Linked DNA regions of Homo sapiens. The protein of the gene in region 6 purifies or fractionates together with the protein of the main gene of each other region. This does not show direct contact. Each region holds a gene or a part of one and is shown on either strand. Other genes may lie near its edges.

Region 1 (3,500 bases), on a different chromosome or scaffold from region 6:
GGGGCCAGGACAGGCCGTGTGGGCCATGGGGATTCTAAGGACAGTGAGGGGAGTGGGAGAGAGGACTCGAGCCAAGGTGACAAGGAGCAATCTGATTTTTAGCTTAGGGGATGTTCCGACAGCTGTGGAAGAGGGATTGGGGTTGGGATGGAGGGGAGTTAGGACTGGCTGTGAGGAATGAAGGGGGTCAGGGGTTGCCAGAGGAGCTGGAGAGAACACAGATTTGGGGACATTAATGAGGCCAAGCCAGGCAATGCAAAGGGCAAGAAGAGCAAGGGGGAGGTCACAGGAGTTCAGATCCCTGGGGACTGGACAGGCGGGCAGGCAGAGCCCACAGGCAAATAGCAGCCCACCTGGGGAGCCTGAGGGCAGGTGCCTGCCTCAGCACTTGCCCCTAGCAACTCTGTGAGAAGCAGACAGAGCTGCCACTTCTTTTTTTTTTTTTTTAGACGGAGTCTTGCTCTGTCACCCAGGCTGGAGTGCAGTGGCGAGATTTTGGCTCACTGCAACCTCTGCCTCCCAGGTTGAAGCGATTCTTCTGCCTTACCCTCCCAAGTATCTGGGACTACAGGCGCGTGCCACCACGCCCAGCTAATTTTTTGTGATTTTTAGTAGAGATGGGGTTTCACTGTGTTAGCCAGGATGGTCTCGATCTTCCGACCTGGTGATCTGCCCACCTCGGCCTCCCAAAGTGCTGGATTACAGGCATGAGTCAGCACGACCGGCCAAACCGCCCCTTCTTTAAGATCTTCACCGTAGCTCATGCCTGTAATCCCAGCACTTTGGGAGGCCGAGGTGGGCAGATTACGAGGTCAAAAGTTCGAGACACCCTGACCAATATGGTGAAATCCCGTCTCTACTAAAAATGCAAAAATTAGCCAGGCGTGGTGGCGCGCCTATAATCCCAGCTACTCAGGAAGCAGAGGCAGGAGAATCGCTTGAACCCAGAAAGTGGAGGTTGCAGTGAGCCGAGATTGCGCCACTGCAATCCAGCCTAAGCAACAGAGCAAGACTCCGTCTCAAAAAAAGAAAAAAGAAAAAAAAAAAAGAGCTTTACCGCCACCTCCTGGAGAAGCGTGGTAACAACCACCCAAGGCCAGGGGTACTGCAGGGTGAGTGGCATGCCCTGGAGCCATGCAGTCATAGCCTGCACCTCTGTCAGAGGCAGCCCTGTCTAGGATTTGGTGGCTGAGGGCCCCTGTCCCGAGGGCCACTCTGGAGAGCATGTCAGTGCCAGCAATCATAACTTATGGAGCATTTGCTAAGTACCAGTCACTATGCTAAGCCCTCTATGCAGATGGTCTCAGCTCATCTTCAATACCTTTCACTATCCTATCCCTATTTCTACAGGTGGGGAAATGAAGGCACGGACACCTTGGGTAGCATCACCAGTAAGCGACCAAGATTCGATTCAAACCCAGGCAATTCAAACCCAGAGTCAGTGTTCTAGTAACTTCCCTGGCCCCTTGCCTTTCTATATGCTGAGGTCTGAGTGGCTCTTCATATGCAAACAGTACTTCTTAGCAAATGAAAGTGCTTTCCTGCTGTACATTAGGTCAGTATTTCCCAAATGTGGTTGTGGACCCTCTGCATCAGGATTACCAGGGCTGGACCAGATTTGGGACCTGGGAATCTGCATGTCTAATAAGAACCACAACCTCCCCATCCCCCCAGTCCTCCTAGCTGTCCCCAGGACCTCCACAACAGAGAGGAAGTCCCATTTCACAGATGTAGAGACCGAGGCAGAGCAAGAACGATGATGAAACACTGGCTCAGAGTCCTGCCCACCCCTCCCCAGCTGCCTGAACCTTTTCACGCTGGAGTCGCTGTAAGTCCTCCTCGTGAGCTGCCCGCTGCTCCCGCAGAGAGGCCTGGGCCTCCCGCTCAGCCTGCACCAGCTTCTGGGCCATCAGCTCCTTGTCTAGACTGGCTTTCTCCTGTGTAGCTATTATTTGCTGCCGCAGGCCCGCCAACTCCCCTGCACGAGAGGAATGGGGGAAAGGGCAGGGTTGGGTTGAAACTTTTCCTTGGGCCAGCAGACTTAGGCCAGGTGAGCCACATGGGCAAAATCCCAGAGGCAGAGGGCCTGCCTGGCATCTAGTTTGGGTCCTCTTGAAGTGGCTTGCCCTCTCTGGGCCTCAGTTTCCCTATATGCTACATGGGCCCACTGGCCCTGACCCCTTTCCTGCCTACCTAGAATGGCATTAAAGGCATAAAATGACTGATGAGAAGGCCTCCCAAATGGGACGGATGTCAAACATATAACAACCCTAGGTCAGGTGCCTTGGCTCACGCCTGTAATCCCAGCACTTTGGGAAGCTGGGGCAGGTGGATCACCTTAGGTCAGGAGTTCAAGACCAACCTGGCCAACATGGTGAAACCCTGTCTCTACTAAAAATACAACAATTAGCCAGGCGTGGTGGCAGGCGTATGTAGTCCCAGCCTCAGGGAGGCTGAGGCAGGAGAATCGCTTGAACCCAAGAGGCAGAAGTTGCAGTGAGCTGAGATTGCACCACTGCACTCCAGCCTGGGCAACAAGAGTGAGACTCTGCCTCAAAAAAACAAATAGGCCGGGCGCAGTGGCTCATGCCTGTAATCCAGCACTCTGGGAGGCTGGGTCAGGTAGGTCACCTTAGGTCAGGAGTTTGAGACCAGCCTGGCCAACACAGCGAAACCCTGTCTATACCAAAAATACAAAAATTAGCCAGGCATGGTGGCGGGCATATGTAGTCCCAGCTACTTGGGAGGCTGAGGCAGGAGAATCGCTTGAATGCAGGAGGCAGAAGTTGCAGTGAGCCGAGATCGCACCATTGCACTCCAGCCTGGGCAACAAGAGTGAGACTCTGTCTCAAAAAACAAACAGGCTGGGCGTGATGGCTCATGCCTGTAATCCCAGCAGTTTGGGAGGCCAAAGCGGGTGGATCACCTGAGGTCAAGAGTTCGAGACCAGCTTGACCAACATGGCGAAACCCCGTCTCTACTAAAAATATAAAATTAGCCAGGCATGGTGATGCATGCCTGTAATCCCAGCTACTTGGGAGGCTGAGGCAGGAGAATCGCTTGAACCCAGAAGGCAGAGGTTGAGGTGAGCCGAGATAGTGCCATTGCACTCCCGCCTGGGCAACAAGAGTGAAACTCTGTCTCAAAACAAACAAACAAAAAACAACCCTATTCCTGACTGAGCACTTACTATGGGTCAAGCGCCCAGCTAAGTATTTTAGACATAACCTCATTTTGTCTTCATAACATGCCTATGTAGTTTATCCTCATCCCCATTTAACAGATGATGAAATGGAGGCTCAGAGATCAGCAGCAACTTCCCACAGCTGCACAGCTACACATAAAGCATCTCCTTTAATGACTGACATGAACATACCCGTCAAACGTTAACTATTTATATTAATGGAAATGACTACAGGGAATGGAAATGGTATAGCTACCATCTAAAAACCATCTCCCGGGTTGGAAACCCACCAGCATTTCCCTTCCTGGTTCTGTCT
Region 2 (3,500 bases), on a different chromosome or scaffold from region 6:
AGGGACAAAAGCCTAAGTGCAAGTGAATTCAAGAGAAAAAAGAGGAGAAGAATTGGAGAAAGCTGCCACAGATAATTCTCTGAAGTTTCTTTTCCAAGAAGGGAAGCAGAGTAATGCAGGAGTAGTTGAGAGAAGTGAGAACAAGATGGAAGACACAACAGCATGTTTGTATGTTGACAAGAATAATTTTGGAGAGAGAAAAGTTGATGATGCAGGAGTGAGGGGAAAGTTGTTGGAAAGATGCTCTTGAGTAGGAGAAAGGGCTTAGGATCTGGTGGAGATATGGAAGGGTTGGCTTTAGACACTGATTGTTTCTTTATTGTTAAAAGAGGGAAAGCAGAATTCATGGGCAGGCACTGCTGATGAATGTAGGAAGATGTGATGGCAGCTTTTGGAAGACCTCTTCTTATTGCTTCTTGGTGACATGTGAAGAAAGATCCTTACTGAGAATAAGGCTGGGGAAGATGTTGGAGATTTGAGGAAAGTGAAGGCATAGAGTAGTCTTCTCAGAGAGTGGGAGAGTGAGTGGGCCAGGGGAATGTGGGATATTTTAGGCCAATGTTAAGGGGCCATTTTAAGTTGGTGGTCACAAAGTTGGCAGAAGACCAGTCAGGAAGGGTTGTGTGCCCTTCTCCAGTAATGTTTGGCTGCAGAAGTGCAGGATACTTTTATCAGATAGAGTTGGATTTACCTAGGGTTTTGAATTTGTCATGAGAATAAGACAAAGTGAGAAAAAGGGGAATGGAGTTGAGGTATATATGAAGAAGGGATTATAATGAGTTGGTGAGGGAAGGACACTGGGACTTGAGAAGAGTGCAGAGGTGATAGGATCGGTGGATGGATGGTCTAGGTAAAATAAAAGACTTGTTGGAATTGGGGCACCTGTGGGGATTAGTTTTAAAGTTAGGAAATGGTGGTCAGAAATTTAGGTTATGGAGAGGTTGCAGTTACCAGTAATGACAAGGCTTAACTTAACATCATGGGTGTAAGTGGTTGGAGTAGAATAGAGAACATTCAGAGAAAAGGTTGAAAATCTATAGGGAATTTTGCTGATGGCTGTTTGTGAATTTGAGTACAAAGTAGGAGTTTTCAGGGATTGGGAACAGGTGGGAGATGGGATCAGAGCACCCTCTACCTCTTAATCCCCAGTGCTTAGAACAGAGTCCAGCTCATAGCACGTAACAGATTGAATGAATGTTATTGGAGTGACAGAATATCAAAACTATTTCCTGTTGCTTATGTATACACTGGTTTATTAAAGGAAATGTGACATTAGGAATATGGTCAGAGGACTCATGAGAATCAGATCTTAATGGACTGTTTTACTCCTCCTTAGAAATCCAGGCTGCCATCTGGAAGGTGTGAGCTTTTAGGCAACTGTATACACACAGCTGATTCAGCCAAAACGAGTGACTCATCCATATTTGTGGCTGGATTTATATGTATTATTTTCACTTACTGTGGAATTAATTTATTGAATAATCTAAATAGAGTAATATCATCCCTTAGAATGTTAATGCCATTCTCTGTCTCACTGTGAGTACTATACACTTTTAACATTTTAATTACCAACTCCTCTAAAATAAGTTTCTGGCCTGGTGCGGTAGCTCATGTTTATAATCCCAGCACTTTGGGAGGCCAAGGTGGGAGGATCACATGAAGCCAGGAGTTCAAGACCAGCCTGGCCAACATGGGGAAATCTTGTCCCTACTAAAAATACAAAAATTAGCTGGGCGTGGTGGCAGATGCCTGTAATCCCAGCCATTTGGGAGATTGAGGCACAAGAATCACTTCAACCCAGGAGGTGGAGGTTGGAGTGAGCTGAGATCACGCCACTGCACTCCAGCCTGGAAGACAGAGGAAGACTCTCTCCAAACCAATAAATACATACATATGTACATACGTACACAAGTTTATTATTGACAACTTGATTGGATATCCTTCCATGTGAATTTTCTGCGACCAGCACTACCAGGGACTATACCAGGAGCTAGCTAGATTTGGTTATTTCCCAGTGTCTACCCCTTGGTTACTGGTAGGCAGAGGAGTCACTAAACTTTGATATACACCATCAGTTTTTCCCCTTATATTCTCTTATAAAAGCATTGATAAGAAATTACGTTATTATTATGTATAAAATTAAACCCATAGGTCATTCAATTTCCAATAAATTATCAGTATGTCCCAAAACTTTAGGGTAGAATTCTCATATTGGTTTGATCATCAGGAAACATTTTCAAATCTTTATATTAAAAACCCAAGTGTGGATTTGCTCACTTCATTCATTTAGCAGATTTACCCACATGCTATGGCAATGATAATGGATAGAAACAGACATGGTACATAATCTTATGAAACCTGCAGTCTGGTAAGGGAGATACATGTTAATCACACCAAAAAAGAAATGAAATTAAAACTAATAAGAGTTTCAAAATAAAAGTACTTAGCACTATTCTGGAAGGAATTGTTCTAATCATGGAGATCAGAAACCTTCTTGGAAGTCAATGATGCTTCTTTGAAAAACTCATAATTGAGCTAAGATAAAGGAGAAGAGGAAGCATTAACCAGGAAAAAAGGATGGGGAGAAGGAGCCTAGCATATGCCAAGATCTTGTGGAGAGAAACAATGTAGAGTTTGAGGAAACAAAGACCAATACAGTGTGTGGCAGGGAGCCTGGTACAACATGAGGCTGGAAAACATGGCAACATTGGGATTTCTTTCGTTATCTCAAGAGCAATGGGAAGCCATTGAAATATTTTCAGTATGGGAATTGTGATGGATATATGTTTTGCAAGATCTGTCCGGCTGCCATAGGAGGCAAGAGTAGGCTGTGAATGCCCTTAAAAGGCCATTGCAGTAGTCCACGTAGGAGGTGTTGGTAGCTTGGATGAAGGAGGGTAGGAATAGACAGAAGTGGATGAAACTGCACAATTATGTAAGGGGAACAATGTTAAGGTTGATGCTGGGTTGGATAATGGATGAGAGACAGGGATGCCTGCTAAGTTTCTGGCTTGCCCAACAAGATTGATGGAGGTACCATGCACTGAGCAAGAGAACTCTGGACAAGGAGCCTCTTTGGAGGGTAGTTTTATTTTCATTCATTCAATTCAATATTTAATAGGCTCTTACCAAGTGCCAGGCACTGTTCTAGGATCTGAGGATTTATTGATAATCAGGTCAAAATCCCTGCCTTCATGAAGCTTACATTTTCATTGGGAGGAATAGACAATTTTTTAAGAAAATAATTTCACATAGTAGTAAGCGCTGTGAATTAAATAAGACTACAGGTCTCTAAGGGATGGGTAAGACAGCTTTAGTTTGGGCCATCAGGACAGGCACCTCTAAGGAGATGACGTTTTAGCTGAGACCTGACTGATGAGGAAGGTGCCCATGCAGAGATCTGGGGCAGAGATTGTTTTCCAATTAGAAAGAACAGGGGCCGGGCGCAGTGGCTCATGCCTGTAATTCCAGCAGTTTGGGAGGCCAAGGCAGGTGGATCA
Region 3 (3,500 bases), on a different chromosome or scaffold from region 6:
AGGTATAAATGAATAAGTGAAGTAATCTAGCCCTTTTTCAATGAGAATTCGGTTTGTGGAATTTCTTTAGCTCTAATATATAATAATTTTTTATTGTTTTTCCTTTCTTTAATTTCTAATACTCAACAATTAATACTTATGATTGTGACTGAGACTCCAGCAAGATCCTGAACCATCAAAGAATTTGTTTAACATAATTTTGTTTCACATCATTGTATTATACCACGTGTATTTTTTAGTGTTTGATTCTTGGAAAACTAGTAATGACTGTCTGAAGTACATAAGTGGCTTTGTGTTAACCAGAAGAGGTGACTTATCAAGCATTTATTGAATATCTCTTATATTATTATTAGGCAAGACAGTGAGAATTTGAAGGTATAAGTTGGAGGTGATTATAATGTCACTGTGAAGAAAAAATTAAATGAGACACTTGAAAATAACACAGAGTATGTAACTAAATTTCATATAGTTGTAGAAATTTAAAGAGGTAGATAGAGATCAGAGAAGACTAGAGTAGCAGTGGAAGTTACAGAGGAGAACAACTTGAGCCAAGCCCTAAAGATGGATAGGGGGATAGGAAGGGGAAGGAAGATCATTCTTTTGGGGGAAGGAAATATAAACAAGAGGAGGTGTTAGATCAATTTTTAACATGTATTCCCAGTGGAAAGAGAAGATCTTTGATGCATATTTTACCATAGAGTTGGGCTTCATATATTTGTTTTATGATGTTATTTTTTTTTCTTTTCTTTGCAGCATATTTTCGTTCTTTATGTTGGTAACAGCTAGGAGTAATATTTTATTTCCTTTATTATACCATGTTATATCATAGGGCCCAACTCTATGGTAAAATATGCAGCAAAGAGAAAAAAGATTATGCCTTGGAACATTTGCAAGGAAATTACCTGCAGAGGTAAAATTTATTTGGGAGAAATATTTTGAAAGGTATGCAATTTTAGGAGTGCCTTAATTGTTGGAAATTTACCTGATAAATATTCCACATACTTAACATATTATGTAATTGTTTCAGAGTTATATTTTGCAACAGACCTACATCAGTAGGTAGTTTGATTCTAAAGGAAAAAAAGTCATTCATTTAAAGTCACATTGGCATTTCTAATATTGCTAATAAAAAGTAACATTTTTGTCTTCTCTTCCTACAGGTTGAATTTGAATGCATAAATGAGAAAAAAAGGCAAAAGAAAAAAAGCTACAAGAATTCAGGTGTTATCAGTGTGAAACAGTGTGAGGTCCGTTGGCCTTGGCTACTTATTTTTATTTATTTATTTATTCTTTTTGAGCTGGAGCCTCGCTCTGTTGCCCAGGCTGGAGCGCAGTGGTGTGATCTCGGCTCACTGCAACCTCTGCCTCCTGGGTTCAAGCAATTCTCTGCCTCAGCCTCCCAGGTAGCTGGGATTACAGGCACCCACCACTACACCTGGCTAATTTTTGTATTTTTAGTGGAGACAGGGTTTCACCATGTTGGCCAGGCTGGTCTTGAACTCCTGACCTTGTGATCCACCCACCTTGGCCTCCCAAAGTGCTGGGATTACAGGTGTGAGCCACCGCATCCGACCCAAGCCTTGGCTACTTATAATATAATGAGATTATATTTCAAGTTCTCCTGTTAGTATGTTTATATTAAACAAATACTTGAATTTCAGGCAGTTGAAAATCACATGAGCATCTGGTCACCTTTAGCAAAAAGAATCAAGTAGGGAAGAACAAAAAAATCAAGTAACCTGTTTCCAAGGTTTGACAACTTATTTGCAAAGGACAAGGATAAGTTTTTCGTTATCTTAGGAAATATAAAGCATCATAGTATTTTCTCAGCTCTTTAGTGGAAATGACCTTACCCAATGCATTTATCCTCTTCATACTTTCAATATAAAATGTTATGAGTAAAGGGGAAAAGCCAAGATTTTTTAGGGTGAACAAGTGGAATGGAGTTTTTGTTTTTTAAAATGTTGACTGCTATGCTTTTTAAAGCCCTCAACATATTGGATTCATTACTAATATCTTAAAACTTAAAATGAGTGTATTTCATCTTTCGCCATTAGTATTCTAATCTTAACATTGCTACAATTATCTTGAAGCAGAATTTTACAGATTCATGGCACATAGGGGAAGGGGTATCTTAAACCTGAATGCAGGGGTAATTTCCATGTTTATATCATGTCCTGTTCAATTTACAGACTTTTAAAAATATATGCCAAAGAGTTTTTTGCTTCTCTTGTATAGTAGGAGAGTTGTAATTTTAAGTTTTCTCTTATTTTTAGATTACAGTAGAATGCACATTCCTTGACTATATAATGGGAGGATGTCAGCTGAATTTTACTGTAAGTAACACACTGAATTTTTCAGCATAGGCTTTTTCCTCCATGTTGCAGTATATTTTCTTTCACTGCAAAACTGACTTTGTAATGAAATTTTCACAATCTGTTTAGCATAGTCCTCTTAGAGTCCTCAGGCAGGTTGTCTGGGCTCATCATGAAGCTCTCAGTTTTGTTGATGAGATCTCTTCCTCCTGAGAGAAAGCAGATGTATACAAACCTACAAACTAGTGGTTATCCTGAACTAATTTAAGGACTAGAAAGCATTAGTGAGACAACCTTATAAAAGACAACCCTTAAGCTTAAGTAATGGATACAATAATTCATTATTTAAGCCATCTAGAAAAGTAGAAGCATCAGGTTGTTTCACATTTAGGCTTTACTTGTTTAATTGTCTATGGAAATAGTGGTAGGCATTTGTTAGGAAGTAGGCGCCAGGATGCATGATTGTATCCCATCTCTTGAAGTTTTCCTGGACATCAAGCACAGGTGTCCCTGCCTTCTCCTTACTAAGGGCTGCAATTGTTATTTGGCAGGTGGGAGTGGACTTCACTGGCTCCAATGGTGACCCAAGGTCTCCAGACTCCCTTCATTACATCAGCCCCAATGGCGTTAATGAGTATTTGACTGCTCTCTGGTCTGTGGGACTGGTCATTCAAGATTATGATGCGTGAGTATGACTTTGGAAAAACTAAAATACATGTTTTCACAATTCCCCAGAAAGGGTAGTTTGTTTCATCGGCTAGCACTCTGATATAGGTGGTAGGTTGATGATGCTTTCTCCCTAAAATCCCCCCGTCTTATCTTCTATTTTTCTCCTTGTGGCAATCTTGCTGTTTACCTTAGATCTCTAATATCTTTCTGTGATTAGTTATCATATATGGCATGTACTTTGCTTTATATTACATATAGTTTGCTACTTACTTCCTGACTGAATGTCAGCAAGGCTCTTGTTTCTTTAGTCTGGTTTCCTTGGGGCTTATTCATTAGGCATAAGTTGTATGAGTGATTGAAGCCCAGATGACATGTTTTATAAATACTGTTTATAAATACTAAATATTATTTATGTTAAATACTAAATACTATTTATAAATACTAAATACTATTTATGTTAAGAAATAAAAACTATTTCTTAGCATATCTATGTCCTTGGCAGTTGCCAAATTATTT
Region 4 (3,500 bases), on a different chromosome or scaffold from region 6:
CCATAGTACCAAAACAGTGATTGTTTAAATAATATAGGTATAGGCTAAGAAAAGGTCTTATTTAACTCCAGGTAGGGGTACTTTCAATAGACTGCCCACATCAATATTGTCCATCTGTGTATATGTCCAGTGTGCAATGAGCACCTGAAAATCAAATTAATTAAAATAGATAACCCCGAAATTACTTTTAACACAGTAACAACAACAAAAAATCCAGACAGTATTCTTTCATGAACTGGTTAAATAACCAAATGTAACTCCTTACAGGACAATGCAATCATCGTGCCACATAGACCATCATAAGATGGTAAAGCCCATGAAGATTTATCTTCCTCAGCAACATGTCCTAAATATGTGCAAGATAACGAACTTTGGCATTTTGTCCCTTTGCAAAGTTCACCATGTCCTAGCAGTGTACATGGTAAGCCTTCATAACCATGTATCACTTTATGCTTTAAGTCTTAAGAAAAGAGAGATTTTTTCTTCACCTTGCGGAAAGCATTTCTGGACTCCTTGTAGGTTCGGCTGAGGCTGCTTACAAGATCCATTATGAATCTCCAGGACATTAAATTTTGAAGATCTCTGTATAAAAAAAACCACCGCCCAGCAACAGAAAAGATGAGGCTGCAAAGCTTCTGAAGAGTGATATGAAATGCAAACTTTGAGGACATGGGGACTGTGACATACCTACCTGGCAGAATATTTGGTAAGAATGGGCTTAAGTTTGGTTAAATATTCTGGAGCATAAACAACCACATCTTCCTCATTTGTAATACTAATATTCACAGTTGACATGATTTCATTTGTGAAATTCAACCAGCTGAATGGCTGGAAAAAAGCAGGCATGAAACATTCAGAAATTGTGGATTTCTCTTCTTGGGTCCAAGATTCAGTTATAGTTAGAGGGTTGGATCAGTTTGATATTCACTTGGGATTCTTCCTCAATTGTTTCAATCAGTTTTTAAATAAAAACTAGTTCTGCAACATGATTATTTACCTAGCATAATTAAGCCAACCATTTAAGAGCGAAAACAAAGCCTTTAAGCTTAAGGAACATATACCTAGAAATTAGGCTTAATGTCATCTTCTTTGTCTAACCAATACAGAAAATAAAAATATAATTTAAATTTAAATTTAAAAATAAAGCTTTTTTGGTTTATGCAAAAATGGAAATGTGTGTAAAGTGTTTAGCTTTTAAAAGTGGGTATTAATAAACAATTCATTCAAACACAGTAACACATCTCAGTGGAAATCCTATTATAGATGAAAATATACTGTTATAGCAGTGGTACAGTGATGTTATGAAGTCAAAGAAAACAGCATCTTTTCAATTATCGATATTGGGTCTACAGGCATGCCATGTTTATACTTCAGAAGCTAAGTACGGAGTTGCCAAAAGATGAAATCTTGTCTTTCTAAATGGGAATTGATAATGTTTAAGACTATCAATATCTTAGGTTGTATTTTACACACACAGACACAAGCACACATCACTTACTGAGTATAGGGTGCTATGCTATACAATTTTCTTCATTTCCTTTGGTGGTTTAGGTCATTCTTTCAAAACGTATTTATTAAACACTTATTATATTAAAAAATTCTATGTAAGATGTCTAACTCAATAGTTTATGCCTTTGGAAAAGTCCTTGTTAACTAGAATTAGTGCCAAAGAGAATGTCATCGCTGAATGTGGTAGTTTGTAGGTTTTCCCATGGATATTGCTTCATCTCTTGGCTGTGTGCATCAACTAATACACGAGAATAAATGCATAGCCACAAAAAGAGATTATTGGATACTAGGTAAGGAAAAAGAAGTCAACTGCTGTTTATAAATGGAATCTATGAGAGAGCTTTTCTTTTTATTTGTGTCCTATTTCTGAATTATTGTTCTGAACACCTCTGTAGATGGCCTTGATGAGAACACGGGAAGTTCTATGAATAAATTATCCTTTTTTGGAGTTAAAAGGAAATCTAGTGCTTTTATTGTGTGACTGTCCAAGTCTGATGACTACATAATGGCCTCTCAGAAAGATTTTCAGTTTTAGTATTTTTCAAACCCCTTCCTATGGGAGTTTCTAGTATTATTGTATAGCTGCCTTAAAAGGAATTTTACCAGCTAAGAGTGGTGGCTCACACCTGTGGCTAACACTTTGGGAGGCTGTGGCCGGCAGATCACTCGAGCTCAGGGGTTCGAGACCAGATTGGCCAAACCTCATCTCTACTAAAAATACAAGAATTAGCCAGGTGTGGTGGTGCATGCCTGTAGTCCCAGCTACTTGGGAGGCTGAGGCAGGAGAATCGCTTGAGCCTGGGAGGTGGACGTTACAGTGAGCCAAGATTGTGTCACTGTACTCCAGCCTGGGCAACAGAGTGAGACCCTGTCTCAAAAAAAAAAAAAAAAAAAAAAAAGGAATTGAAGTCCCATTTACTTCAATAAATAAAAACTTGACGAATTTTAGAAAGAGTATTTCAATGTTATAATTTAGAAAACGGCACAATAAGAGAGCACAAAAAACTTACCACTTACCTTCCCATTGATCTCTAGTGAAAAGTTATTTTGGATCTGGGCCAATGTCATCTTGTTATACAGAAGCATTGGATCATTTCGATCTTCAGGTTTAGCCGTAGCCTATGGATTTAATTTTTAATCATTATTTTAGAATTAAGAATTCTTTAGAAAAATATAACTACATATGAGGGTAAAAATATAGGATAGGTACAACATAATTTAAGTCCTATTCTGTACTTGTTTTTGTAATTTGTTTTGTCATTTCAAAAAAAGTGAAATGTAAGAGATTTTTGGAGTAGAAGTAGTAAGAATTATTGAGATTTGGCTGTGGGGTCAAGTTTAAAATTTTTAAAAAATCTGTCTATATTTTGACAACTGCCAAGCCATATAAGCAATATTTATGAGCTATGGCTAATGGCCAGTTCAGTTGTGTCTGTGAATGTTTCATATTTTAACTTTCTTTGATATAGTCATCTCCAATTTCTCTCTTAAATACTCTCTCTCCCATCTTCACCATTACCATTCGGTGTCCTAGTTAAAATTCAGCAAGGAAAAAAAGGTGCAAGAGTTTCTATAAGAATTTATCGCAAGTAACAGAGAAACTTCCTAGTACAGAGCACAATTTGGTTGCAAGTTATCTGAGAATGGCAACATCATGGACCTTTGTGACTGTTCTCCTATCCTGCCAGACCAGCAGCATCCAATTTTATTTCTTTCACTGAATTAAAAAGAAAAATTGCAATAACAACTCCCCAACTAGTGGCTGAAATGAGTAAAAGCAATTTTAAGTGAGAAGAGACAAAAGGTAAAGGTTTAAAATTGGAATTATTTCTCAGTGACAATGGCTCCAGTTTCCCCTTTAGGTCACTTACCTATTCATTTACTGAAAACAATTATTTATTGAGCATGTCCTTTGTGCAATACTATGCTGGATTTTGTTAGAGATGCATAAATGATTCAAAGACGTCTAAGGCCTCATGCCAATCTAATAC
Region 5 (4,107 bases), on a different chromosome or scaffold from region 6:
CAAAATTAGCCAGGTGTGGTGGCGCACGCCGGTAATCCCAGCTACTTGGGAGGCTGAGGCAGGAGAATCACTTGATCCGAGATCGTGTCACTGCACTCCAGCCTGGGCGACAGAGGAGGAAAAAAAAAAGCAGTCATTTCATTGCAGGTGCCTCCAGTAATTGCTCAGTGCAAACATACATAACTATTCTATCACAGACCATTAAGGGTGTCTCTCTCCATTTTTAGATTTTCCGCTTGAGTTTCCAGGTAGTTTCTCACCTGTTTTCAAGCAGGGTTGGGGCAGCCGTTTCTTCAACAGCGCCAGCCGTAAAACACAAAGATGGAGGCCAACCTCCCACACCCGGGCACCCTCCCTTCCCCCATACTGAGATTGACAAGTAAGCAACCCGGTGATCAGTACTAAAATGGAGACGTCAGCCAGGTGCGGTGGCTCACACCTGTAATTCCAGCACTTTGGGAGGCTGAGGAGGAAGGATCGCTTGAGCCCAGGGGTTCGAGGTCAGCCTGGGCAACATATGGAAACCCTGTCTCTATGAAATGTAGATCCTGTCTGTGAGTGTGTGTGTATAAATAAATATATATATATATATACAAATACATACATATATATATTTAAAAAATAAAATGGGGACGTCCAACACGTGTACTAGGGGCGGTGTCTCTGCCTGGGGAGGTGGTGATGACAGGGCAGGCTCCACCCAGGAGAAGCTGGAAGAATGGGAGTTCCGCGGCAGAGGAGGCGGGGCAGGGCGTTCCTCCAAACACAGGAATACCACGTGCGAAAACAAAGGGGTGTGCGAAGACCGGGTGCATGTGTACAGCTGCAAACTGGGGGAAAGGCGCCAGGCTTGGGCGATGAGGATTTGTTCCCCCATGGATTCCCTTCCTGCCCAGGGTCCGCTCTCGCCGGTCGAGGGTGCCTAACAATACTCCTTGCCACAAGGTTCGCAGCCGAAAAGGTCCTTCAAGTCCGGCCATCCAACTTTCACTTTTTATAGACAAATATACAGAGGCCTTAGATAAGTGAAACGGCTTGTCTCGGGTTACAGCTCTAGCCAACACAGGGTTTCTGACGGTCAGTCTGCGGATTTTCCTGCCTCTGGTCCGCAGGCACTGCCCAGGCTGTCAGCCCCAAACCCTACTCCGGGGACCGCGGTCAGGTTCGTCTCCGGGCGGACTACATCTCCCACAATGCCTTGGGCCCAGCCTCCCTCCTGCCGCCCGGCTGGGTGCCGTCTCCACCAACAGAAAGGCAGAATTTCCAGGGCCGTTCTCGGCAGCCAATGAGCGCGGCGGTGGGCGGGCCTCTCCCGTCCATTGTTCTCGGTGCCCCACGGGCTTGAGCCGGGGTGAATCTGGAGGGGCCGGGCCGAGCCCGGGGGCGCTTTCGCACGCGAAGCAACCGCTAGAGCAGGACCTGGTCTCCCGAGAGGTGAGCCGGAGAGGCAGGCCTGGAGCCACGCGGACCCCGGGCAGTAGCCCGAGGTGAGGGAATAGTGGGCCTGGAGCCAGCTGCCGGCAGCTCTGCTGGGGGAGGGGCGTCGGGGTCGCGCTCCGTATCCTGCGGGCCCTGCAGCCCCGATTTACGCGCCGGCTCCGCTCAGCGAACCGTCCCGGACGCGTCTCCCTGGCGGAGAGCTCCTTGCCTCTCCTACCGAGAAGCGCAGGCTTTGGACGGGAAGGGGCATTCGACGACATCCCGCGCAGCGTACACGTTTTACAGATGGGGAAACTGAGGTTCAGAGGGGGCGTGTCGTGCCCCAAGTCAGACCGCAAATTAGCTGACCTGGCACACTTTTCCCAGGCTCCCAAGTAGGAAGAGTTCTCTTACACCATATGCCAGTATTTCTTCTAGTCATTTGAGTAAATACACGTTGAGAGCTTCGGTTTTCCCACTAGCTTTTATTTTTTGTCCTTTTTTTTTTAAGCTTTTGTCAGCTTTTCTCCCCTTTTCATTGAGGGAGGGTTGTTAGTTGAGTCTTTATGATGTAGTAATGATTTTTTAAAAAATTTTTTTATTTTTGTAGAGACTGGGTCTCACTCTGTTGCCCAGGTTGGTCATGAACTCCCGGCCTCAAGCCATCTTCCCTCCTCGGCCTCCCAAAGTGCTGGAATTACAGGCGTGAGCTACAGCGCTTGGGCTAAAAATAATTTTGTATTGCTTTTATAATATTTTAAGTCGTTTGCAATTCCACTGCTTTCAATATTTTGTAGGTGCCGTCCCGTTCTTTTTTCCTGTGAGTTCATTTTTTTTTTTTTTTTTTTTTGAGACGGAGTTTTGCTTTTGTTGCCCAGGCTGGAGTGCAATGGCCTGATCTCCGCTCACCGCATCCTCTGCCTCCCGGGTTCAAGCGATTCTCCTGCCTCAGCCTCCGGAGTAGCTGGGATTACGGGCATGCGCCACCACGCCTGGCTAATTTTGTTTTTAGTAGAGACGAGGTTTCTCCGTGTTGGTCAGGCTGGTCTCGATCTTCCGACCTCAGGTGATCCGCCCGCCTCAACCTGCCAAAGTGCTAGGATTACAGGTCTGAGCCACCGCGCCCGGCTGTGAGTTCATTTTTAAAGGGAATTGAGGACTTACTGTGTCTATGGTTTTTCTGCCCTGCTGATTTTGTGTTTATCCATTATTTTCCTATCAGAAGGATTATCTTAAATCATTAATGATTAATCTTTGTCAATATAATTTTTAAAATATTAAAAACATACAGCGTAATGTGCAGATCTTAAATTTCATATGTTTGCTCTTGTGCCGCCATTGCCAAATGAAGATATTGAAAATTTCCATCATCCCAGAAGGCTCCTTTGAGCCCCTTTCCTGTCATTACCACCTAAAGGTAGCCATTATTATAGCACAGTTTCTTTTCTTTTTTTTCCTTTTCTTTTCTTTTTTTTTTTTTTTTTTTGAGACAGAGTCTGGCTCTTTCGCCCAGACTGGAGTGCAGTGGCACGATCTCGGCTCACTGCAACCTCCTCCTCCCAGGTTCGGGCAATTCTCCTGCCTCAGCCTCCTGAGTAGCTGGGATTACAGGCGCCCGTCACCATGCCTGGCTAATTTTTGTATTTTTGGTAGAGACGGGGTTTCACTATATTGGCCAGGCTGGTCTCGAACTCCTGACCTCAAGTGATCCGCCTGCCGAGGCCTCCCAAAGTGCTGGGATTACAGGCAACCACGCCAAGCCTATAGCACAGTTTCTAATACATGCTGCTATATGGGTGTGTCATAGTTTATTAGCCATTCCCTGCTGCTGGATTTTTAAGGACTCGATTTTTTGGTTATTTTTTTAAGATAAAGTACTGAGGGGCCGAGGCTGGATTGGAGAGTATATGCATGTTTTAAACTTCATACTTAAAGTATGGTAATAATGCAGTTGAGATATTGCCTTTCTTCCAAAGAAGCTCAGAGTGCTTTGACATCTGATCCATTGCTGATCCTTAAGATGCCCCCATAAAAACAGAAACATGAGTGTTATTATCTTTATTAGGTGGTCACCGAGTTTGGTGACTAAGTTGTATGTTAGGTCAAGGTCACACAGTGCAAGTCGAAACTGACTTAGGAGAGTCCTCAGTATTTCAGTCATGGGTTTTTCCCGGGGACTTTGCATTTCTGATACTCATTCTTTGGTGTTTTGGAAGGAACAATGCTGTATTTTTTGTGCTTGGGATACTTTTTTTTTTTTTTTTTTGAGACGGAGTCTCACTCTGTTGCCTGGGCTGGAGTGCAGTGGCGAGATCTGTGCTCACTGCAACCTCCGCCTCCTGGGTTCAAGAGATTCTCCTGCCTCAGCCTCCCAAGTAGCAGGAACTACAGGCCCCCGCCACCACGCCCGGCTAATTTTTGTATTTTTAATAGAAATGGGGTTTCACCATACCTCAGGTGATCCGCCCACCTCGGCCTCCCAAAGTGCTGGGATTACAGGCATGAGACACTGCACCCAGCCTTCTTTTACCACAGAGAGATGTTTTCAGGAATAAGCCATTTTTTCTTTAAGAAGAACAGGAAACGTCTGTTGGTTTGCATATGTAAGGGCCACTTGGTGGTCTGACCTGGGCTTTTGTGAGTTAGATTGCTTTAGGACAGTCTACCTATGGATTATGGTTCTCTTTT
Region 6 (3,500 bases):
TGCATATAGTAGTGGCTCATTAAAATATTTGATCAATGAATGATTATGAAATTCAAACTATTAGTATCGGAGTTTAAGAATACAATCAACTCTACAGAACCACATAAGAATGAACTGAAACTGTCACCTGAAAGTGTTCTTTCCATTTGCAATGTTATTTCTACACCCTTCAGAGTTTCCTGTTTTAGCCAACTTTTATGGTGTGTTTCATTTCAGTTTATTTCCCCTCTTCAGCACCTCCCTTACAGTGACCCCTGCCCCACCCCCCAACACTTATGCATTTGGTTTATTTTAAATCTCCCATGATTACATAACTAGCATCCTGTGGTGGCTTCACTAGCCACCCCTACCCCATCCTTGCCTTCTTTCATCTACCTAACTACTCTCCTCTTTCCCACCAAGTCCATAGCTTCCTCCTATCTGTGTACATCTCCTTTTTAAATATGATTTTATAACTGTGCCTAGTGGTATTTCCCATGAGAAGAAATACAAATGGCCACTAAACTTATGAAAAGGTGCTCAACACTCTAATACTCAAAGAAAGGCAAATTAGAGCAAAACCATTCTTTCTGCCTAAGATTAAAGAGAATAACAATAGTTTGGGAACTCTCATACATGATTGGTCCAAGTGTAAATTGGTACAACATTTCTGGATTGATCAATAATCAGGATTTTCATGAATTATCCTTGTTTAAGACTTCATTTCTAAGTTGAAATACTATTTTCATTTATTTTGTTTGTTTTATTTTTTTTACTTCATGCTTTTTGCTTAGAGCCTTTAACTGGATTTAACTGCCTCCCTAGGGCCAAACATAAGGCTTGGGAAATTCAAACATACCTGTTATATATAAATAGAGTTAATATTTTTTTAAAGTCGCTGTTGGGGCTGTAGTGAAGACTGAAAACATTAAATAAATACAGAGACAATTTCTTTGTTTGAAGTAAGAAAGAGGACAGTACCTGAATTTGCTAATAGTCCTCCCATTTTACAGATTGATTATCTGAACATAGTGTGACTATATGTGATTCTGAGAGGAAAGGGGTGGAGGTGGGCAGTGTGTTTACCTGTATACGTAGAGGCTTGTGAGGGTTACTTTAAATCCCAGCTTTTATCTCCCAGGCCTCTAATCGTTTACTCACTAAGTTAAAATGGAAAACAGACCCCTTTCTCGCCCATCTTTCTTCAGATTTTAAAACACTCTTATAAGGCTGCTATTAGGAGACAAGGTCACGGCTGTTTTCAGCCTTCCATGTTTTAGCCAGAAAGATGTACTATAAGTTACTTATTTATAACCAAATCTGCATTATAGAAAGGCACTTTATAATTAGGTTTTTGGTATATAATGGCTAATGTTTCTATTGGTCATATTTTTCAAAGGGTTATCACGTTGTACGTCTTTGGAAAAAATCCCAAGACTTTAACTATAACCACTTAAACAAGACAAAACATACAACTTGTAAGATGGTTCCAGTTTCCCTTATTCAATTCTGTTGATAATGCCTCAATTCTAGGCTCTCGCCTTTCCCTACTTTTTAGAACAGGTTGTCAAAGAGAGCCCAGACATCCCATTGCTTGGAAAGGGGAAGTCCAGTTATAGTTTTCCATGAGTTTGAAAAGGAACCCCCAAACTTCACTTGGGGCCAAAGTTCTACCTCATCTTGTAATTACGAGATTAGAGACCAGAGGTTCGTATTACTTTTATTCCTCAGCTTGTTAGTTTTATATTGCTGCCTTCTCATCTACCCTCCTTCTCACAGCTGCTTTCTAGATTTTCAGATGTTGAAAATAGGAATGCCATATGTGAAGTGATTCTTTTGATGTTTCTTTATCTGTTAGGTGTAGAAGACGCATTCAGTTTCACCTCCAAAGTCATGACCGTGTCCCTGCACAAATTCTCCCCAGGATTTTTCCCAGGCAAGTGATCATAAACTCAGTATTACATTTGATGACTAAATACTGAAATTCTTCTACACATTTCTTATACTTGGACAGTTCCATGCTGTTAATGCCTTACTGCCACAATCCTATGCAAAATTTTTTTTTTTGCATTTTCATTCAGATAGGAGATAATTTTGTAAATTTCTTTTTTATTATACTTTAAGTTTTAGGGTACATGTGCACAATGTGCAGGTTAGTTACATATGTATACACGTGCCATGCTGGTGTGCTGCACCCATTAACTCGTCATTTAGCATTAGGTATATCTCCTAAAGCTATCCCTCCCCCCTCCCCCCACCCCGCAACAGTCCCCAGAGTGTGATGTTCCCCTTCCTGTGTCCATGTGTTCTCATTTTTCAATTCCCACCTATGAGTGAGAATATGCGGTGTTTGGTTTTCTGTTCTCGCGATAGTTTACTGAGAATGATGATTTCCAATTTCATCCATGTCCCTACAAAGGACATGAACTCATCCTTTTTTATGGCTGCATAGTATTCCATGGTGTATATGTGCCACATTTTCTTAATCCAGTCTATCATTGTTGGACATTTGGGTTGGTTCCAAGTCTTTGCTATTGTGAATAGTGCTGCAATAAACATACGTATGCATGTGTCTTTATAGCAGCGTGATTTATAGTCCTTTGGGTATATACCCAGTAATGGGATGGCTGGGTCAAATGGTATTTCTAGTTCTAGATCCCTGAGGAATCGCCACACTGACTTCCACAAGGGTTGATCTAGTTTACAGTCCCACCAACAGTGTAAAAGTGTTCCTATTTGTCCACATCCTCTCCAGCACCTGTTGTTTCCTGACTTTTTAATGATCGCCATTCTAACTGGTGTGAGATGGTGTCTCATTGTGATTTTGATTTGCATTTCTCTGATGGCCAGTGATGGTGAGCGTTTTTTCATGTGTTTTTTGGCTGCATAAATGTCTTCTTTTGAGAAGAGTCTGTTCATGTCCTTCGCCCACTTTTTGATGGGGTTGTTTGTTTTTTTCTTGTAAATTTGTTTGAGTTCATTGTAGATTCTGGATATTAGCCCTTTGTCAGATGAGTAGGTTGCAAAAATTTTTTCCCATTCTATAGGTTGCCTGTTCACTCTGATGGTAGTTTCTTTTGCTGTACAGAAGCTCTTTAGTTTAATTAGATCCCATTTGTCAATTTTGGCTTTTGTTGCCATTGCTTTTGGTGTTTTAGACATGAAGTCCTTGCCCATGCCTATGTCCTGAATGGTGATGCCTAGGTTTTCTTCTAGGGTTTTTATGGTTTTAGGTCTAACGTTTAAGTCTTTAATCCATCTTGAATTAATTTTTGTATAAGGTGTAAGGAAGGGATCCAGTTTCAGCTTTCTACATATGGCTAGCCAGTTTTCCCAGCACCATTTATTAAATAGGGAATCCTTTCCCCATTGATTGTTTTTCTCAGTCCTGTGCAAAATTTTAACACAGGTCACCTCAGGTGACAATAACAAGAAGAATGACATTAAAGCTGTTTCTTTTTCCAGGTGATTTTTATGGACTGTTAACAGATCACTTATGCTTACTATACTAGTAGACACCC
Region 7 (3,500 bases), on a different chromosome or scaffold from region 6:
AATTTTTATAATTTTTGGTAGAGATGAGGTTTCACCACATTGGCCAGGCTGGTCTCGAACTCCTGATCTCAAGTGATCTGCCCGCCTCGCCCTCCCAAAGTGCTGGGATTACAGGCATGACCCACTGCACCTGGCCTAGAGATGAGATCTTGCTCTGTTGCTTAGGCTGGAAGTGTAGTGGCGTGATCATAGCTCACTGCAGGCCCCAAACTCCTGGGCTTAAATAATCCTATCACCTCAGCTTCCTGAGTAGCTAGGACTTGCAGGCATGTGCCACTACTCCAAAACTGTATTTTTTTTTTTTTTTTTATAGAGCACAGTCTATGTTGCCTAGGCTGGTCTTAAACTCCTGGCCTCAAGTGATCCTCCCACCTTAGCCTCCCAAAGTGCTGGGATTACAGGCGTGGGCCACCGTGCCTGGCTAATTTTTCTAGTTTTTGGTAGAGACAAGGTTTCATCATGTTGGCCAGGCTGGTCTTGAACTCCTGGCCTCAAGTGATCCTCCCACCTTGGCCTCCCAAAGTGCTGGGATTACTTTGGGAGGCCGCCGAGCCTGGCCTCCTGTTCATCCTTTGAGCTTCTGCTTAAACATCACTTCTGAGAGTCCTTCTCTGATTTCTCATCTAGGTTAGGTATTTCTCTGCTGTGTAGCCCTGTCTATACTTTTGCTGGCATTATGATTTCTTACATTTATTATAGTTACTCCATTAATTGCATGCCTTCCTTGCTAGATTGTAAGTTGTAAGGACAGGAACCATGTCATCTTGTTCAGAGTTGTGTCCCTAGTACTAGCATTGTGCCTGGCATATATCTGTAGTGTGTGTGTGTAATTTTTTTTTTTTTTTTTTTTTTAGTAGAGATGGTGTTTCACCATGTTGCCCAGGCTGATCTCAAACTCCTGGCCTCGAGTGATCCACCTGCCTCTGTCTCCCATATGTGCCAGCCCTGGCATATATCTGATACTAGGATGTGTAAGGAATGAATCCAGTTGGTGTGTGTATGCCAGACACTGCCCCGGGCCAGGGGGATAGATGTAACACCACTAATACCTCAGCTGCTTTGTTTTGTTTTGTTTTGAGATGGAGCCTTGCTCTGTCGCCCAGGCTGGAGTGCAGAGGCACGATCTCAGCTCACTGCAACCTCCACCTCCTAGGCTCAAGCAATTCTCCTGCCTCAGCCTCCTGAGTAACTGGGAATACAGGCGCACACACCACGCCCAGCTAATTTTTGTATTTTTAGTAGAGACGGAGTTTCACCATGTTGGCCAGGCTCGTCTCAAACTCCTGACCTCAAGTGATCCACCCACCTCGGCCTCCCAAAGGGCTGGGATTACAGGTGTGAGCCACTGTGCCCAGCCTGGCATCTGCTCTTGAAGAGCTCAGAGTCGAGTCTAGTGGAAGGGATTGACAAAGTCACAGAGTGCTTTGGGAATACAATAGAGGGACCTTGGTAGGTTGTGAACGGTGTCACCAAGGAGGCGACATTTAAAACAGCTGTAGGTCCAGCACGGTGGCTCATGCCTGTAATTCCAGCACTTTAGGAAGCCGAGGCGGGAGGATCGCTTGAGCTCAGAAGTTCGAGACCAGCCTGGGCAACATGGAGAGATCCCGTCTCTACCAAAAATACAAAAACTAGCTGGGCATGGTGGTGCATGCTTGTGATCCTAGCTACTTGGGAGGCTGAGGTGAGAGGATCACTTGAGCCTGGAGGGCGGAGGTTGCATTGAGCCAAGATTGCCCCACTGCACTCCAGAGTCAGGCTTCAGTCATGACTTGATCACTTAATAGCCATGTGACCCTAGGCAAAATAATAACTTCACCTTTCTGTGACCCTTTCCTCCCCTATAAAATGGGATTACAGATACCAGGCTGTGATGCCATTAACTATGTCTGGCCCATGGTAAGCAGCTAATAAGTGTTAGTTATTATTGGGAGGCCGAGGCAGGCGGATCACCTGAGGTCAGGAGTTCGAGAGCAGCCTGGCTGGCCATCGTAGCGAAACCCCATCTCTGCTAAAAATAACAAAAATTAGCTGGGCATGGTGGTGGGCGCCTGTAGGCCCAGCTACTTGGGAGGCTGAGTCAGGGGAATTGCTTCAGCCTGGGAGGCAGAAGTTGCAAGTCACAGTGAGCCGAGATCGTACCACTGCACTCCAGCCTGGGTGACAGAGCAAGATTCTGTCTGAAAAAAAAAAAAAAGAAAAGAAAAGTATAATTTCTGATGGGTCATCATGGGGAGGGGAACATTCCATGCTAAGGGGTGCATTCATGGACAGGGACTGGGACTCAGGAGTCCACAGATTATGATCAGGGAGTGCCTGTCACCCTGGGGAAGGTGGTGGAGAATGGGGTTGGAAATACAGAGGGGGCCTTGAGTAACAGATTCCCAGTTATCTCCCTTTCTTCGCCATACTTTTTATCTCAAGTTCTCAGTTTAGGCCTTCTGATCAATACCATCCTACAGGACTCTCCCCAACATCCTCCACATTTCACACATATTTCTTCTGCTGGGGAAAGGTGCCTGCCTCTACTCTGCCTACTTTTTTTTTTTTTTCTTTTTGAGATGGAGTCTCACTCCATCGCCCCAGGCTGGAGTGCGGTGGCGCCATCTGGCCTCACTACAGCCTCCACCTCCTGGGTTTAAGCAATTCTCATGCCTTAGCCTCCTGAGTAGCTGAGATTACAGGCACCCACCACCACACCTGGCTAATTTTTGTATTTTTAGTAAAGACAGCGTTTCGCCATGTTGGCCAGGCTGGTCTCGAACTCCTGACCTCAAGCGATCCACCCGCCTTGGCCTCCCAGAGTACTGGGATTACAGGCGTGAGCCACCGTGCCTGGCCTGCTTACTTCTTTTTATGCTTCTTCCTCCTTTTTTTTGAGATGGGGTCCTGCCCTGTTGCCCAGGCTAGAGTGTAGTGGTCCAATCAGAGCTCTCTGCAGCCTTGAATTCCAGGGTTCAAGCCATCTTCCCTCCTCAGCGTCCCCATTAGCTGGGACTACAGGTGCTCACCACCATGACTGGCTAATTTTTAAATTCTTTGTAGAGACGGGGTCTCACTATGTGACCCAGGTTGGTCTCAAATTCCTGGGCTCAAGTAATTCTCCCACCATGGTCCCCCAAAACACTGGAATCACAGGTGAGAGCCACCACACCCAGCCCTCCTTTTCTTTCTTTCTGTTTTTTTTTTGTTTTTGTTGTTGTTGTTGTTTGTTTTTTTGAGATGGAGTCTTACTCTGTCACCCAGGCTGGAGTGCAGTGGCGTGATCTCGGCTCACTGCAACCTCCACCTCCCAGGTTCGAGTGAGTCTTCTGCCTCATCCTCCCCAGTAGCTGGGACTACAGCTGCATGCCACCAAGCCTGGCTAATTTTTGTATTTTTAGTAGAGACGGGGTTTCACCATGTTGGCCAGGCTGGTCTCGAACTCCTGACCTTGTGATCCACCAGCCTCAGGCTCCCAAAGTGCCAGGATTCCAGGCATGAGCCACCATGCCTGGCTG

Evidence for each region.
Region 1: the proteins of HDAC8 (region 6) and CROCC purify together in Homo sapiens (affinity purification with mass spectrometry; one large-scale study listed by BioGRID and IntAct). This does not show direct contact.
Region 2: the proteins of HDAC8 (region 6) and MDM1 purify together in Homo sapiens (affinity purification with mass spectrometry; one large-scale study listed by BioGRID and IntAct). This does not show direct contact.
Region 3: the proteins of HDAC8 (region 6) and CPNE3 purify together in Homo sapiens (affinity purification with mass spectrometry; one large-scale study listed by BioGRID and IntAct). This does not show direct contact.
Region 4: the proteins of HDAC8 (region 6) and MME purify together in Homo sapiens (affinity purification with mass spectrometry; one large-scale study listed by BioGRID and IntAct). This does not show direct contact.
Region 5: the proteins of HDAC8 (region 6) and ZSCAN2 purify together in Homo sapiens (affinity purification with mass spectrometry; one large-scale study listed by BioGRID and IntAct). This does not show direct contact.
Region 7: the proteins of HDAC8 (region 6) and TPM4 purify together in Homo sapiens (affinity purification with mass spectrometry; one large-scale study listed by BioGRID and IntAct). This does not show direct contact.

The regions. Positions count from the first base shown.
Region 1 is NC_000001.11:16,949,431-16,952,930, reverse strand, and holds part of CROCC (rootletin), read right to left. Parts: intron 1,979-3,500; coding exon 1,809-1,978; intron 1-1,808. UniProt on the Homo sapiens protein: Major structural component of the ciliary rootlet, a cytoskeletal-like structure in ciliated cells which originates from the basal body at the proximal end of a cilium and extends proximally toward the cell nucleus.
Region 2 is NC_000012.12:68,308,363-68,311,862, reverse strand, and holds part of MDM1 (nuclear protein MDM1), read left to right. Parts: intron 1-3,500. UniProt on the Homo sapiens protein: Microtubule-binding protein that negatively regulates centriole duplication. Binds to and stabilizes microtubules.
Region 3 is NC_000008.11:86,545,435-86,548,934, forward strand, and holds part of CPNE3 (copine-3), read left to right. Parts: intron 1-1,160; coding exon 1,161-1,247; intron 1,248-2,276; coding exon 2,277-2,336; intron 2,337-2,866; coding exon 2,867-3,000; intron 3,001-3,500. UniProt on the Homo sapiens protein: Calcium-dependent phospholipid-binding protein that plays a role in ERBB2-mediated tumor cell migration in response to growth factor heregulin stimulation.
Region 4 is NC_000003.12:155,139,319-155,142,818, reverse strand, and holds part of MME (neprilysin), read right to left. Parts: intron 2,629-3,500; coding exon 2,527-2,628; intron 829-2,526; coding exon 692-828; intron 583-691; coding exon 489-582; intron 1-488. UniProt on the Homo sapiens protein: Thermolysin-like specificity, but is almost confined on acting on polypeptides of up to 30 amino acids. Biologically important in the destruction of opioid peptides such as Met- and Leu-enkephalins by cleavage of a Gly-Phe bond.
Region 5 is NC_000015.10:84,599,702-84,603,808, forward strand, and holds the start of ZSCAN2 (zinc finger and SCAN domain-containing protein 2), read left to right. Parts: upstream 1-1,307; 5' UTR 1,308-1,434; exon of another isoform or gene 1,435-1,814; intron 1,815-4,107. UniProt on the Homo sapiens protein: May be involved in transcriptional regulation during the post-meiotic stages of spermatogenesis.
Region 6 is NC_000023.11:72,489,344-72,492,843, reverse strand, and holds part of HDAC8 (histone deacetylase 8), read left to right. Parts: intron 1-1,837; coding exon 1,838-1,915; intron 1,916-3,500. UniProt on the Homo sapiens protein: Histone deacetylase that catalyzes the deacetylation of lysine residues on the N-terminal part of the core histones (H2A, H2B, H3 and H4).
Region 7 is NC_000019.10:16,089,995-16,093,494, forward strand, and holds part of TPM4 (tropomyosin alpha-4 chain), read left to right. Parts: intron 1-3,500. UniProt on the Homo sapiens protein: Binds to actin filaments in muscle and non-muscle cells. Plays a central role, in association with the troponin complex, in the calcium dependent regulation of vertebrate striated muscle contraction.